Homo sapiens: one gene and its partners. The protein of the gene in region 2 purifies or fractionates together with the protein of the main gene of each other region. This does not show direct contact. Each region holds a gene or a part of one and is shown on either strand. Other genes may lie near its edges.

The links.
Region 1: the proteins of DYSF (region 2) and PCDHGA5 purify together in Homo sapiens (co-immunoprecipitation; one large-scale study listed by IntAct). This does not show direct contact.
Region 3: the proteins of DYSF (region 2) and LRRC52 purify together in Homo sapiens (co-immunoprecipitation; one large-scale study listed by IntAct). This does not show direct contact.
Region 4: the proteins of DYSF (region 2) and RIPOR2 purify together in Homo sapiens (affinity purification with western blotting; one study listed by BioGRID). This does not show direct contact.

Annotation. Positions count from the first base shown.
Region 1 is NC_000005.10:141,362,776-141,366,961, reverse strand, and holds the start of PCDHGA5 (protocadherin gamma-A5 isoform 1 precursor), read right to left. Parts: upstream 2,801-4,186; 5' UTR 2,632-2,800; coding exon 211-2,631; coding exon of another isoform or gene 190-210; exon of another isoform or gene 1-189. UniProt on the Homo sapiens protein: Potential calcium-dependent cell-adhesion protein. May be involved in the establishment and maintenance of specific neuronal connections in the brain.
Region 2 is NC_000002.12:71,465,552-71,469,498, reverse strand, and holds the start of DYSF (dysferlin), read right to left. Parts: upstream 2,801-3,947; 5' UTR 2,657-2,800; coding exon 2,566-2,656; intron 1-2,565. UniProt on the Homo sapiens protein: Key calcium ion sensor involved in the Ca(2+)-triggered synaptic vesicle-plasma membrane fusion.
Region 3 is NC_000001.11:165,550,500-165,553,999, forward strand, and holds part of LRRC52 (leucine-rich repeat-containing protein 52 precursor), read left to right. Parts: intron 1-3,500. UniProt on the Homo sapiens protein: Auxiliary protein of the large-conductance, voltage and calcium-activated potassium channel (BK alpha).
Region 4 is NC_000006.12:24,933,161-24,937,109, forward strand, and holds the start of RIPOR2 (rho family-interacting cell polarization regulator 2), read right to left. Parts: upstream 2,801-3,949; 5' UTR 2,739-2,800; coding exon 2,678-2,738; intron 1,211-2,677; exon of another isoform or gene 1,086-1,210; intron 905-1,085; exon of another isoform or gene 815-904; intron 1-814. UniProt on the Homo sapiens protein: Acts as an inhibitor of the small GTPase RHOA and plays several roles in the regulation of myoblast and hair cell differentiation, lymphocyte T proliferation and neutrophil polarization.

The sequences.
Region 1 (4,186 bases), on a different chromosome or scaffold from region 2:
CACTTAAGTCTACAGATATCAGCTAGACTTCCCAAAACAGAATTTGAAAACAAATGGAGAAAGCATGAATTATATAAAAAAAATTAATCTCCAATACAGCAAATAATGTTCCACTATTTACATAACTAGCTGATTCTGAATATGACAGAAACATGAAAAAGGAAACAAATGAAAATGTTCTGGTCATCCTTACCGAAAGAGAAAACTAACCTGAACTCGCCGTTCTTCTTTGTTTGCATCTACCTTATCAGACATCAGAAGAGGCTCGCTTTTCTCACAGCTCTCTTCACTAAGGAGCGTGTCTGCGTAGTTGGGCTGGGGAAAGATCAGGTGACTCTTCCTCGAGTCCGCGGTGAGGGAGACCTCGTGGGAATAGGTCTGCAGGAAAGCCCGAACCCCATCCACGCCCACAAAGTGCGAGGCGGGCACACCCGCCAACCTGCTGCCTTCAGCCTGAAGCAGGCGTGACTTGTGCCAGCGCCTCAGTCTGAGCACCAGCAGCACGATGACGAAGGCCAGGAAGACGCAGGAGACTGCAGCCACTGCCACCACAAGATAGAGTGTGAGGTCCAGATCCTCAGGGTCAATGGGGGTCTTGATACTGCCTAGGTCAGCCAGGATGTCAGGGATCCTGTCGGCCACGGCAACGGTGACCGTGAAGGTGGCTGACAGAGGGGGCTGGCCATGGTCTTCGACGGCCACCACGAGGCTCTGCTTGAGCGCGTCTCTGTCCAGCAGGGCTCGCGCTGTGCGCACCTCGCCCGTGTGCAGCCCAACCGCAAAGAGTCCTGGCTCGCTGGCCTTAAGCAGGCGGTAGGACAGCCAGGCGTTCTGGCCTGAATCTTTGTCCACCGCTACCACCTTGGTCACCAGGTAGCCAGGTTCTGCGGAGCGAGGCGCCAGCTCCACGCCCGTGGAACCGTCTGTGGGGAGGGCGGGGTACAGGATCTCAGGCGTATTGTCGTTCTGGTCCAGCACAAACAGGCTCAGCGACACGTTGCTGCTAAGTGGAGGGTTCCCACTGTCGCTGGCTGTCACCCACAACTGTAGGTCTCTCAACTGCTCATAGTCGAAGGATCTCAGAGCATACAGGACACCGGTGTCAGAGTTAATGGATACATAGGAGGACAAGGGCGCCCCCTGAAATGTGTCTTCAGCCAGGGAGTAGGTGACTCGAGCGTTGTCGCCGCTGTCGGGGTCATGGGCTGTCACAGAGAAGATAGAGACACCTCTGGGATTGTTTTCTGTGACAGAGGTGGAGTAGGAGGCTTGAGGGAAATTGGGTGGGTTGTCATTAACGTCTGCTACTTTCAAGGGGATGTGGCTTTCTGTAGAGAGGGGCGGGGTTCCATGGTCCATGACGGTTAAAGTGATATTATAATCTGAAGTCTCTTCTCTGTCCAGGTCCCTAGTTGTTAATAGGTGATAGTAATTATCAACTGACTTCTCCAATTTAAAAGGCAAATTCCTAGGAATAGAGCATGCAATCTCACCATTTTCTCCAGAATCACCATCATGTACGCTAAACAGCGCGATTACAGTTCCGGGAAGACAGTCTTCAGAGATCGAACTGGTCAGAGAGGTGAGGATCACTTCGGGGGCATTGTCATTCACGTCCTGTACTGTGACCACCACCTTAGCGCTGGCAACAAGAGCGCCTCCATCCTGAGCTACCACTTCCATGAGGTAGAATCTGGATTCTTCATAGTCCAGTGATTGTAGAGTTGAGATTTCCCCCAGGTTGGAATCAAGTTGGAAAGTCTCCGAAATTTTTTCTTCTTCATTGCGAAAAGAGTAGGTCAATTTCCCGTTTATTCCCTCATCTGGATCCGTGGCGGTTAGCATGAGCAGCCGAGTGCCCACAGGTATGTTCTCTGGAACACTCACGCTGTACTCGGATGGGGTGAACAGGGGCGCATTGTCGTTTGCGTCGAGGACCGTAACACGGATGTGCGTGGTGCCGGAGAGTACCGGGTCTCCGCCATCTAAAGCTGTGAGGAGGAGGTCGTGAACAGTCTCTTTCTCGCGGTCTAGGGGCTGTTCCAACACCAGCTCCGGATACTTTTGTCCATCAGTTCCGCTTACCACATCCAGAGAGAAGTGCAGATTGGAGCTGAGCTGGTAACTCCGGAGAGAGTTCACACCCACATCCGCATCCCGCGCGAAGGGAAGCACTAACCGTGTCCCTGCAGCCGCATTTTCATTAACTTTTACTTTTAACTCTTCATCCCGGAAACGCGGGAAGTTATCATTAATATCGATTATTTCTACTTCTACTCCATAAATTTTCATTTTGTTCTCAACCAAGATGTTAAAGTTCACCACACACAGTGGGCTCTGAGCGCAGAGCTCCTCCCGGTCTATCCTGCCCGCGGTGACCAAGCTGCCGCTTCGCGGGTTCAGGGCAAAAAGCTGCGTCCTACCTCTGGAGACGATGCGGACTCCGCGCTCCGCCAGCTCCTGGGGCTCCAGCCCAAGGTCCTTGGCTATGTTGCCGACGAAGGAGCCTTTGTCCAGCTCCTCCGGCATCGAGTAGCGGATCTGCCCGGATCCTGGCTCGCACAGCGTCCCCAGGAGCATGAAGGGCAGCAGCAGCTCTCCGCAGCCCCAGCCCCTAGGTGGACTCGCCATTGCCTTCTCTCTGCCCAATTTTCTCTTAGTTCTGGTTCAGCCTGCTGTTTCCTTATTTATCTAAAGCCGATGGGTACATATTCCCTGACGAAAATGGGCGTGGAGCGTTGGCTTTTCGTAGGAGCTTGTCTGGTCTGTGTGTTTAGTATGGAGGGAGCAGAGTCGGGTCGCCTCTGCGGCAGCTTCTTTCCCACTTTGGTCAACAGCGACACTCAGAGTCCTAACCAGTGACTGCATCAAATTCCATTTTTATTTCTCCTAAGTTTAGTTATAATTTTATTTCTAATAATGTTGCCATATCCTTAATGTTTAACTGTGTAGCGTTGTTTATGACCGTTAATTCAGCTTTAATTCTGAATAGCAAGACTTCCACAATCCCTGAGATCAATATGATTATTAGATCTCAATACCTTACAAAAATTTTATTTAATGCGTCATCGGGGGAGCCTATGTCCTTTATTTACCTCTTATCTATATTTAGTCCATTAAATTAGGACATTCAAATTCTTACCTTTGTAGGATTCAAGATTTCATCTCCTTATTAGGATAAATTTAGGAAAACGTGCTTATTTGCATATAAGAATACCAAGGAAACAAACCCAGTTCTCCATGCACCTTTCCAAACAGGCCTACTGATTTATGTAAGTTATATTAGCTGTCATATGCAGAAGAAATAAAGATCTTTGTTACTTGTGAGGACTTTGAGAAAGTCTCTCCACTATCTCAGACAGCGTTTGAGTTGGGTTAACTATGCATTTTTATGTTTTTCTATTACCATGTTCAAATATTTGTAGTTCCAGTGACAACCAGTATAGTAACTGTGGAGGATGGGGTTTTATTTCATCATCCATGCAGGAAAGCATGAGCAGATACTTGTCGAGAAGTACTGAGTGACCTTTCTATGTTGAGACAGATATTTACTGCTATCATCTTTATATGACAACAGAAATAGAAAAACCTCTTGATTGAAAAAAATGGACATTTCAGAAAGTCATTTTATTTAATAACACTTTCATAGAAAACTAAGAAAATAAAAATTCTATATAATTAGGAAATTCAAAAGCAAAGTTTTAAGTAATATTTTGTAGAAAATGATGTGAACATAGGTTGTAAGATTTTTCTCAATGTGTAGTTTTTCTTAAGAGCAATTTGTTAAAATGCATGTTAGAGAATGATTTCTCACATTTGTTAAATGCACTCTTTCTAGCAGACACCTCAGACCTCAAACATTGCCTGTCCTTTAGAAATACATTTGTGATTCCAAGACATTTAGCTTACTGAGTGTTGGTCTTCAAGTCAATGGGACAATGTCCTACCCATGCCCTGTGATTAACAAGCCATGCCATTATGCAAAAGTCTTTCTTCTTTGTTTCCCAATTTCCAAAGCCTACTAAAATGAAGACTCTCTTTACTCTGAAGTATTATGATTCTAAGAGGAAGTAAAACTAAAATTTGAATAACAAAGAGCCTGAAGGTGAAACTAATTGCCTAAAGTCTCAATAGCAACAAATCTGCAGAGAGAAGTAATGTAAAGATGAGGAAGAAAAAGAAATAC
Region 2 (3,947 bases):
CTGTCCCATCTGTGCCATGAGGAGCTGGGCTCAGTGGTTCTCAACCCTGACTGCACATTCAAAACACCTGGAAATTTGACAGAAACAACACCTATGCCTGGGGCCCCACCGGAAGGGATCTGGCTTCAGAAAAGGCAGGCAGGGAGGTTGGCAGTGGTCTTTGGTGAAGCTCCCACACACAATGTTGACCTGCAGCCAGAGTTGAGTCCCCCCAGCCTACATGCTCTGTAAGTTCTGAACCTGGTTCTAACGGTTTCCCTCCTTAGGCATCAACTCAGCCCCAAACTCCCCAGTGAATGCTCCCGCAATGGGGAGCGCATTAATTTCACCTGCCATCACATCTCAGACCCATTTTTCCCAAGATGCGGTTCCAAAATAACCTGCATCGGGTATTTGTTAAGTGCTGATTCTTAGGTCACCTTCCAGACCTGCTGCATCGGAACCTCTACAGATGGGGACTCTGGAATCTGTTTCTCAAACACGTTCTACAAGTGATTCTCAGGAACAATCAAGTGAGCGGACCATGTCCCAGACTAAATGAAGCTCCCAGGCACACCTGGAGGATGGCTAGAGGCTGGGCCAGAAAGCGCACAAACACTAGAGAGCACCTACTTGTGCTCAGCACTGGGACAAACCAATGAACAAATAGGACAGGTCACTGCTCTCAAGGCACCTAAGCATGGAGCTGAGCACAGGCCAGTCAGGGCGAGGGTGCTAGCATCCCTAGCAAGGTGCTGCTGCTTGTCATCCAGAGAGGAGAGACTCTTGAGAGCCAGGGGGATCCAGGGTGTCCTCCTGGAGAAGGTGGCATTGCCCTGGGCTTTGAAATACAAATAGACTTGAAACGGTTGGAGATGTTACATTCTATTGTATGGTATTTCTGTTTTCCGAGGAGATCATCAGTGCAAATAAATAGTAAGGCATTACAAAGAAGGAATACAGAGATCTGGGGGGAGATAGCAGCTGCACGTGTTCGGGGTACTTGGGCGAGGGCAATAGTAAAGAGGGGCCTCAAGGGATTTGGTCATCTTCCCGACTCAAGGGCAATACCCACTCCAAGCGCTGGTAGCTCCCTGCCATGACCACTGACCTGAACACATTTAACTTCCCTGGGTTTCAATTTCCTTATTTGCAGAATGGAGACATTGGTAGCCACCACAGGACTGTTACAGGACAAGGGAAAGAGCTGTGAGCAGACCCAAACGAGTGTTAGAGCATCCAGAGCCCTATGCTAATGTGTGCCCTGCCCAGTGTCCTTAGGGAATTTCTTTTCCAGCCAATGGTGACACCGCAATTTCTGCATAGCAAAGCCTTAGGCAGCATCAGGTGGACACTGGAGAAGGAAAGACTTTGTCTTGAAGTTGCTCTTGCATAGTGAACTCCCAGGCATGTCACCAATCAATGAAAATAGTGAAATTTTCTTAAACGTTTCAAATCACATCTTTCAAAAGAGGAATACATATAACTTGTCCCACAGCAAAGAATAAAAGCTACACATAAATCTCCCTTTGCCAAATCATGTCTTTCATCTATCATTATCTTGGGGGTGCTTGGAGATATGATTCAGATCATGGGTCAGACTGAAAAGAGTTCCCTTGGTGCCTGCACTGAAGGAGGCTTATGAAAACACCAGCTACTCTTCCTTCTTCATTTGACTATCTTTTCTGATACGTAGATTTTTATTATTATTATTATCGATTCCACAAAGCTACAGGGTATGGCTCCTGGCTAAGTGGAAACCCTCTTTCCTCTCCTGATTTATCTTTCTCTGCAGAACTGGGGTCCTGACTCACAGCTATTGTTCCTTCTCTTAATTTTGACAGATCCTTCCTCTTCCCTTTCCCCTCCTGAGACACCCGCTCCAGTGGGAATCTGCCTTGGAGGGGTTGGGGGAGGGGGTTCAGGACGCCTGGTGAGAAGAGGAGTGTGTGTGTGATTTCTCTGCTGCCCCACACAGAAATACCTGTATGTATTCTAAGCACTACATGTAGGGACTTAGCTTCTTGAATTTAGAGAAAATATCCTTGACATTCCTCAAAACTCCTTGTGTCAAGGCCATTTCCATCCTATTCTGTTCCTTTTCCTACTGATTAAGACGGGGCAGATTCAATACAGCCAATGTTGGATAAAGATGGGTGAATGAATGAATGAATGAATGAAAAAAGACACAACTTTCAAAGCACATCATCTACACGCCCCGTTTTTCAGAGGCCCTGATTCCTCTCTACCTTCTGCACCCATCTTCCAACTTACCCTTATCCCCACTACCCAGTAAAAGCTCGGACTTTATTTCCTCTGGGTGTCAGTCTTAGAAAAGTGATAACCGCTGACCTACGGCACTTTCGCTTTTCCAATTTTTCAAAGCCCTGTGGCATTTATTGTGCTCTGCTTATTCCTCATCGCCCCCCTGCAGAAGTCGGGGCTGGGATTTCCGTCCCTGCTGACAAAGGGAGAAACTGTGGCCTGGACTAGGGTTAGCTCCGGAGCAGGGGCTTCAGACCCGCCAGTGAGCGCCGAGAGTCGGGTAGCACCCGAGCATGGGCGCGGCAGCCACGGGGCTCTCACCTCGGAAAGTCAGGCTTGCGACAGGGTCGCTGCGCCGGTCCTTCTTCGCACTGGGGAGGTTGCTGGCCCTCACCAGCAGGCAGCACAGCATGGCTGGGCAGCCCCGGCGGCACACAGGCGCGCAGTCAGGGCGGGAGCGGGAGCACCGGGCCCGAGCACCCACCCAGCAAGCGCCCGGCTCCCAGGCAGCCGCGCCAAGAGAGCTGTCGCCTTCGCTGCTCCTCCGCGGAGAAGTGACCAATGCCTGGGAGAGGCTGCAGGGAGGACACCGGACACCCGCTGGGCGGACCCTCCCCCTCCGGCCCCTACCCAGATCCGCCCTGCCCGCGGCGGGCGGGGAGGGACAGGGGTCAGACGGGCGCCTGTGGGGGTGCTGGTCCCTAGCTCCGCGGGTCCCAGCTCCCGGCCAGGAACGAGGCGCCGCTGACGCGGGCGCGCAGCTCGGCCTCCGAGAGCGCACAAGGCGCCGTGGGGCCTGCTCCGCGGGGGCCTCCGGTGACCAAGGCTCCACACCAGCCAGGGATCCCGGGCCCGGTGCGCACCGGTGCCGACTTGGCAGCCGCCCTGTGCGCTCGACGAAAGGGTGAGAAGGAGGCAGGAGTGCAGGCGGAAGGAGTGGGCAATCAGCGGCGGGGACGAGAGTGTGTCTTCGGGGAAACCAAGTCTGAGTGAGCGCTGAAGGGGGAGTGTGCGGAGCGTGCCGTGCACCCCGAGCCCCCCGCCTCATTGCCTCTCGCCTCTCTCCACCTGCCCCATGATCTGCGCCAGGGAGCCGGTCCTCTCCCGTCCGCAGGCTGTCTAGGTGGCCGTTCTGGTTTGCTGGGACCCCCGGGTCGGGAGAGACTCCGAGGTTCGAGTCCCCACCAACCCTCCTCGGAGCCTTCTCCGCAGCGGTGTCGAGTCACTCATCTCTGGAGGCAGAGATCTGTATTCAAATCATACTGCGTTCCCTGGAGAACTAGGGTCCAGCTGCGGCCCATTCTGTCCCCTGCAAGTCCCCCATCCCCAACAATCTCTACACTCCCTAGTCTCCACAGTGGAAAGCTGTTCAAGGTGTAAGCCATGAACGGTGACAGTCGTTTCGCTTATTATGTCTGGTTCCTTTCCAGCGTATGAACTTCTTGACACAGGGGCCCTGGCTTCGCACTTCTATCCCCCAGCACTCCAGCACCTAGCCCCTGTCAGGGCACTGTCCGTCTTCCCACCGCCCAAGTCCTCACTAACCAACCTGCTCACTCAGCCTAAACGCACTGCTGCGCAAAATCTCAACTCCCTTTCCCCTCTCTTATTTTGAGGGATACAGCATTCTCACAGGGCTAAGCCATAACCCTGGCGAATCCAACTCCGCCTCCTCCACACCTGCCCCCAACCAGTGCTGTGTT
Region 3 (3,500 bases), on a different chromosome or scaffold from region 2:
CCATACTGGTTAGGGTAGCCTTTTAACATAGGATGTTTAAGCTGGAACTTTAGAATCCAGAGTCACAGGTAAGTGGCTATAGAGAAAAGCCCAGCACAGAGATATCCTGACATCCAAGTTCAATGTTTTTCCCTGATGCCATGATATTTCTTTGCTGTCAAGCACATCATGATCCATTTAACTCTGAAACATTTATTGTATATTCATTATGTCCCCAACATTGCATTATAATGCTGGGGTGGCTGTTTCACCGAGAAAAAAAGTCATAATTTTTGTCTTGAATAAGATAATCTAGGATACGAGAAACAGAAAATAGAATTGAAAGCCAGGAAGCCCTGTCTTGATCCCAGAAATGCCACTGTGTGATATGGGGAAACTCACTTTCCTTCTTCAAGAGTCACTTTTCTTGTCCTTAAAATAAAGGATTTGGGTTAGAGATCCTCAAAGGCCTCCTATAGCTGGTAGCCTATGGACCTAAATAGAAAGATAAGCACACAGGAGGTGAGAGGAGAACAGCGCTCAGCAGGCAAGGTCCCAGGTGAGCAAGTGCAGAGTGGCAAGTGCTGAGGCGAAGGTGTTCCCAGTGATGAGGGCTACATCACATAATTAGGAAGTTCATTTAAGAAACAGATGCCTCTAACTCCTGTACTCTCCCACCTCCTATATTAAGCACCCTCAACTTCACTAAAACAATGCCTCCACCCCAAGAAACTCATTGCCCCAGACTTTCCTCCCAGGCCAGACCTGCTCAAACAGTGCTTCTCAAACTCTAATGAGCACAAGAATCCCAGGTCCTATGCCCTGAGGTTCTGATTCAGTCAACTCTTCATGCCGGTTGTCCTTAGGCCACTTTTCAGAAACCCTAGAACAGTGGCCTGTGTTCTGGACCTTCAGTGGCTGTTCCAATTAGTAAATGAATCGATTTGCTCTGAGATGCTAATGGCTAGTGTTTTGAAATATCCCCTCAGGGAGCATTTGCAATTTGACAGGGAACAACCAGAAACAGTGAGAATTCAGAAAGTGACAGGCTACCAGGGGCTAGAGTGGGGCGGTTTGAGGACAGAGAGTCCCCTCTGTGTCAGCTCTGATAGCCTTAGCCAGTACTAAATGAGCCTGATGGTGGGGCCCACACATCAGAGGAGCTTGAGCAAGGGTGCTGCAGAGGCAGTGGACAAAGCCACTCAGGGCCATCTGCAGGGAGCAGATGGGTTGAGTCATGTGCTGCTTCAGGTCCAAGTCATTTTGAGGGCGTTTTGAGCAGAGAACATCTTAGTTTCATTACGAGGTTATATCATCCTGTATTCAAGACTGTTGTAATGGGATAATGGCCCCATTTCTACCTACCAAGTACAAAGTCATCCACAACTGTGCCCAAACTTAGATTTCCGGAATGAATTCAGGTCCTCACGTTATTCCACTATCAATGCTTACCCATGTCCTCCATCAGGGAAATTAAAATAAAGACCAAAGGCTAAAAAAGAAAAAAAAAAAAAAAAGGCTGGGCAACCAGCAGCTCCAAGGCTTCCAAGGCTGTTGAAAGCCAGAACAGCAGCCTCCTGAGGGCAAGGAGGGGGCTGAGAGGGGTGCAACTGAGTCAGTGATCCCTAAGCCACCCAGAAAATCCAAGAAGGGATAGGAGCAGCAAGCATGGGACATTTAGGAACCCCTGGGTGATGCTGACACACTCCCTGACTCAGGCCAATTGGGATCCCTGAGAGTAGGTGATCGAAGGTTACTCCAAGCTCAGAAATGCCAGATTTCTACACCTGGCCCCTCAGGTCACCCAGCATCACTCAGGACTCTGAAAAACAGCAGTTCAAGTCTGGCTAAAGCAGCCAACCTCAGTTTGCTCATCTTTAAAGGTGAAGAGCTCCTCATCCTGGAGGTAATCCTACAAAGGATGGATGTGGCTAGAGAAAAGAATGGGGGCCCAGCTAGGAAGGGCCTTGAATGGTTTTCTGGGGAACATGCAATATATCCTAAGAAGTCTTGGGAGGCAAGTGAGCTGGAGGTAAGGCTAGGAAGGAAGCTCCCGTAGGCGTTCAAGCCAGACAGTATGGCAGCCTATGGCAACAGTGAGGAGGAGAGGTGTAGACATTTGAGAAGGAATCATTTAGAAGGCAGAAGCAACAGGATTTGGGACTGAACTAGCTCCTCTCATAGTTTCTTGTGCACCCTTTGTAACTTCTGGCACAATTCTAATTAATAAATGTGTATTCATTTAACATTTGTCTTCCCTGATAGACCGGAAGCTCTATGACAGCAGATCTGGATCTTCGGAAACAAGCACAGGCCTGACACAGAGAAAATGCTCAACTAGTGTTTCCTGAGTGAATGAATGAGATACAGAAAATATAGAAAAGGGAAAAATCAATGGTAGCTCCCAAGACTTTGGCTTGGACAGTGTGGGGGCTTTGCTGACATAAACACACTTGGAGGAGGGCAGTGAGGAAGTCAGGCTAGAAGTCAAGTCCCATCTTGACCTTACTGAGTGGGAAGTCCCTGTAAAACACTAGGCATTTGTATGTTCTGACCTGAAATTCAGAATAGAGGACAGGGCATAAAATATACATATATTTGGGGATCATCAACTTACTAGTGATCACTGAAACCTAACAGAAGATGAGATCAATCAGGAAAAAGAGTTTCAAGTGAGGATAATAAGGGCCAAGTACAGAAGCTTTGGGGAATGCAACATACTAAAGGGTCAAGTAAGAAAGAGCAACTCATGTAGGACAGCAGGAGCCCCCAGACAAAGGAAATTAGAACAGGATAAATTCATGGAAGCCAAAGAGTTCCAAAAAGTGGGAGCAGGTCAGATAAGGACAGAAAACTGTCCATCAGATTTAGCACCAGGGATCCCTGATGTCTTGGGCAGTTCTGCTGGCATGATGAGAGTGAACACCAATCCATAATGGGCTATGAACTGAACATAAAAGGTGTGAAGGAGTAAACCATGTAAACTACTCTTCTAGAAAGCATGGCTGTGGACTGAAGGGAATAGGGTGCTAGTTGGAGAGAAAACAAATGAAGAAGGAGGATTTTTAGGAGAAAAGAGATCCAACCATGTGTTTATCTGCTGATGGAAAGAGTCGATGCAGAGAAAAAGGACAAAGATACAAGAAAGAGGGGAAGTCATTGGTGGGGTAAAGTCCCTGAGAGGACAGAAATGGATGGATGATCTCCAAGGGGTAATCCTTGAAAGGGGAGTGGCACCCCCTCTGCCCTCTGGGACTGCAGAGAAGGAGGCGAGGGTAAACATAGATGGGGGTGACTGTAATAACAGGGGACAAATACAATTGAGGGGCCCAATTGGTGCCTGTATTTCTCTTTCAGTGAGGTGAAAGACAAAAAATGACTATATATCTATAAAGTACACATTTTCATGTAATGTTTTCTATGAAGCTTCCATAACACCAATCCAATTAGGCGACTATAAAATATCCATTGTCCTTGAGATGCTCACATCCTAGTTGAGCAGGCAACACCAAGGTGGGCTG
Region 4 (3,949 bases), on a different chromosome or scaffold from region 2:
TTTGAATCTGAGGTTAACCAGACGTGAAAAAATGGTCACTATTCTATAAACCCATTTTTGTAAATAGACAATAGGGATTCATATGTATTAAGTACTGACCACTATTCTAAAAGCTTTCCCTATCATAACACTTAAGCCACACACAGCCATATGAGGTTTGGACTCCATTTTATAAGTGAGTAAACTGAGGCACAGAGAGATTAGGTAACCTGCTTAAGGTCATAAGTGAATTGGTTGGCAAAGCCTAGACCGTGCAATTCCAGAGCTGAAGCTTTTGACTGTTACCCCACACAGAGCTTGCTTAAAATGAGGCAGCAGCTGGACATGCTTTCACATAAATTGCCAAACATGAGCCACGGCTCTGAAAACTGAATAAAAATACACTGGATGTTGGCCTTGCAAGGATTTTCTCTTTAATCTTTAGGGATTAAGTTAAATGAGATAATCAGTTTGGAAAAGATAAAGCATACCACATTGAAGTGCAACGCAAACATTATGCATCTACTATGAAGATAATCTGTACAACCGATAGGTATTACTGTCCCACTTCACCATTGAGGAGACCAAAGTTAGCTTGTATGGGTACCACGAAGCAGAACCAGAATCTGAGTCTGAATCTCGTTTGACTCCCAACTTATCAACCTGCACTACCTCCCTCACTTCCCACCTCAGAGCTAGCTGGTTACCTAGCTACCTGGAACCTGGGGACCTCAGCCATTCCACTACAACATGGTTAGTGAGGTTACAATAATCACCTTGGAAATGATGAATGCTCAGGAGAGAGAACACACAGGTTCATCCAGCCCTGCTTGGTCTTAACGCTTCCCTTCAGGATGGGGCCACGCATAATCCAGAGTGCAGTGCATCAGCCTATAGAGGGCGCTCTTAAGTATCATAGCCAGATGTAAAAGAGCAAAATTCCTATAGGCAAAGAAATGTGGGCTGGGCGTTTTGGAATGCCATTCCTGGAGGGAGGTGTGGGTGAATGATTGCCAATTTTTCCGTTCTAAGCTTATCTTCATAGTTGTGAGCATTTTTCAGGTCCTCAAAAGAGTTAGTATCTAAGTATAAATTTTCTCTTTAAGGTGTTTGCTTAAAGAGGAAACATCTTTAAGAAGTGAAAGCTGAAGAATGGGGCCTAAGATCAAACTTCAAGGTGTTGGTGGCCTAAACGCCTGCCATCAAAGTAACACAACAGAATGATAACTTGGTAAACAGCAGCGAAGCTCAATAGATATTCTTCAAATTGATTTAAGTTGTGATAAAAACCCAACTAATGATTTTAAATATTTCTGTAGCTAGAACAACATAGCAGAAAGACAACATCAAAATATTAACCATGATTACATTCTACATGACTAGATTACAAGGGGTTCTTTGCGACACTCTAATTTTTCTTCAGCGAACTTGTATTGCTTGGGTAATTACACATACACAAAAACCTTACTACTGTTCCTTTTAAAAAATTACTGAATAGAGTTTTTTAAAAAATTGCTAGACGTAGTTTCTTGCGGAAAATAATCAAATTCACGAGATTCTTGAGTCCAAATTTCCTTTATTTAGGTGGCTCCAAATTCTAAAAAAGCTTTTGCCTATAGCCCAATCTCATAGGCAGCATTTGAACAAAACATCCATCCAATGACTAGATCATCCCTTTAAAATCGCAACCTTTACAGTTAAATTCCAGTGGATAGGTCAAGTCATGGAAAAGCTGCAAGATGAGAACAGAAAACTGAGCAGTGCCAATGGGGATTGGAAGCTACCAGGGCTCCAGTATCCCGACTTGGGAAAAAAGAAAATTGGAAAAGGGAATGGAGGGTTGGAGTGCCAAGTATGTGTGAGGAAGAGTAAGAGAGAAGGACCCAGGCCGGGCATGGTAGCTCACGCCTGTAATCCCAGCACTTTGGGGGGCCAAGGAGGGTGGATCACCTGAAGTCAGGATTTCAAGACCAGCCTGGCCAACATGGCAAAATCCCATCTCTACTAAAAATACAAAAATTAGCTGGGCATGGTGGTGGGCGCCTGTAGTCCCAGCTACTTGGGAGGCTGAGGCAGGAGAATGACTTGAACCCGGGAGACGGAGGTTGCAGTGAGCTGAGATTGCACCACTGCACTCCAGCCTGAGCAACAAAGCAAGACTCTGTCTCAAAAAACAACAACAAAAAAAAAAAAAAAAAAAAAGAGAAGGACCGAGAGAAAGATAGACAGAGAGAGAGAGACAGAGAGAGAGAGAGACAGAAAGAGAGAAGTGCAAATCAAAGCAACATGGTACCATGAAAAACCACTCCTGGTCCATTTATTTAACTTCTTCCCTAGCAGCCCTGCTGTGCTCAAACCACTGTGACAGGCTTTCCTTAAGGTGTTAGACAAGAGATAGCACAGAAGAGAGACAAGGCAAAAAATTTAGTACTATTTTCCAGCCTAAACTAAACCTTTATTTTAGTCATGACTTTAAAAAATGTATTTGCGGGAATGACTCAACCCCTTGTTCCACCCCTTGCCTTGTGTATTCCTTCAGTGCCTAAGTTGATATTTGCAGCCACTACCTCACTCAGGATGCTTTGTTTTTATCATTTCAAAATACTCAAGTCCTTGCCCAAGCTGGGCAAAAGTGTCCAGTGGTGTCAAAACAAAGCAAAGCAGACCGGAGAGCCTCCTGCCAGAAAGATGCATTTACCTTCACCAAAAACATCATCCTCTTCATCGACCAGGAGCTCCTCAGCATCAAAAAACTGCATCTTGGAGAGGACAGGCGCGAGAAGCAGCAGGCAGCAGCCCCGGCAGTCTCAGCAGTCACACTGCCGACCGAGGTGATTTCCTTTCCTTGGGTTGCCCAAGCCCTCTGGAGGGCAGCTTCCGCATCTGCCCTGAAGAAAGCAGTTTCATTCATATGAATAGGCTTCTTGAGCCTTGTGAAGAGTGAATCCCAGGTGGGGTAATTCTCACCACTGAGGAGAAAGAATTTTTTGAAGAGGGCTGCAGATCCGGTTGGATATGAATACAGATATCACTCAAAGTCTGAATGCAATGAATTCTATTTCAAAGCAACAACTTTCATATTTCCTTAAAGAGGAAGGTGGGTGCTTAACTTTCTTGCTTATGAATTTGAACACAATGGGTTTTGTTGAAAGAGGGAGTTCATATTTCTCATATCTTGGTTTTGCTTCAATTACAATTTATCTGAAAGTAAAGCAAGCCACTATGTTAAACCAAAGCAGGCATTTAGAGGACAGAGCTTTTATTTTGCTCAGTAATAGTTGCATTTTTCTTTTCTTTTCTTTTCTTTTTTTCAAACCTCTTGCATTTAAGGATTGGAAACTTTACAGCATTTAAACCAAACTGAACCATATCTAGGCTTTATGTGGCTCGATTAAATCTATAGTCAATGAATAGATAACTGGTTTTGGTCAAACATCTTGCATTTCACAATATTTACTCAGTTTGATACTTCAGACTGTATCACTAAAGGAGAAAGAAGAAAATGTAACTCAAAAAGCAGTCCTCCCAAAGGGATGAGTGAACACTGAGCTTCTACGCGAGCACCATTGGCTGGCATCACCATATCGAGCTACCCAACGTGTGCCAAATTCTGTCTGGCTGCACAAACAAACACACATCTCTCTGAGTAATACTGAGACTTCATTTCGGGGTTTCCCAGAGCACTCCACTGTGTTGTAAGATCTCTTAGGTGGCCAGAAGCTTAGAAAATGCAAATGGAGATGACAGTGAGGAGCTGTTGACCCAAGGTGTTTATTTTTGGCACTTTATTTACTGCATGGTTTTGAAGATACTCCCAGTGTTACCCTAGAGAAACTGTCCCCTCCTCCTGTAACTGCAACCTTGAAATTGCACCATTTTCTCCCAGAAGAGACTGTGGACAACAGGGTTGGAGAAATCCAGCAGTGAGAAGGGATCACCCCAGAGGAATTCAGGAATCAGACACTGAGGG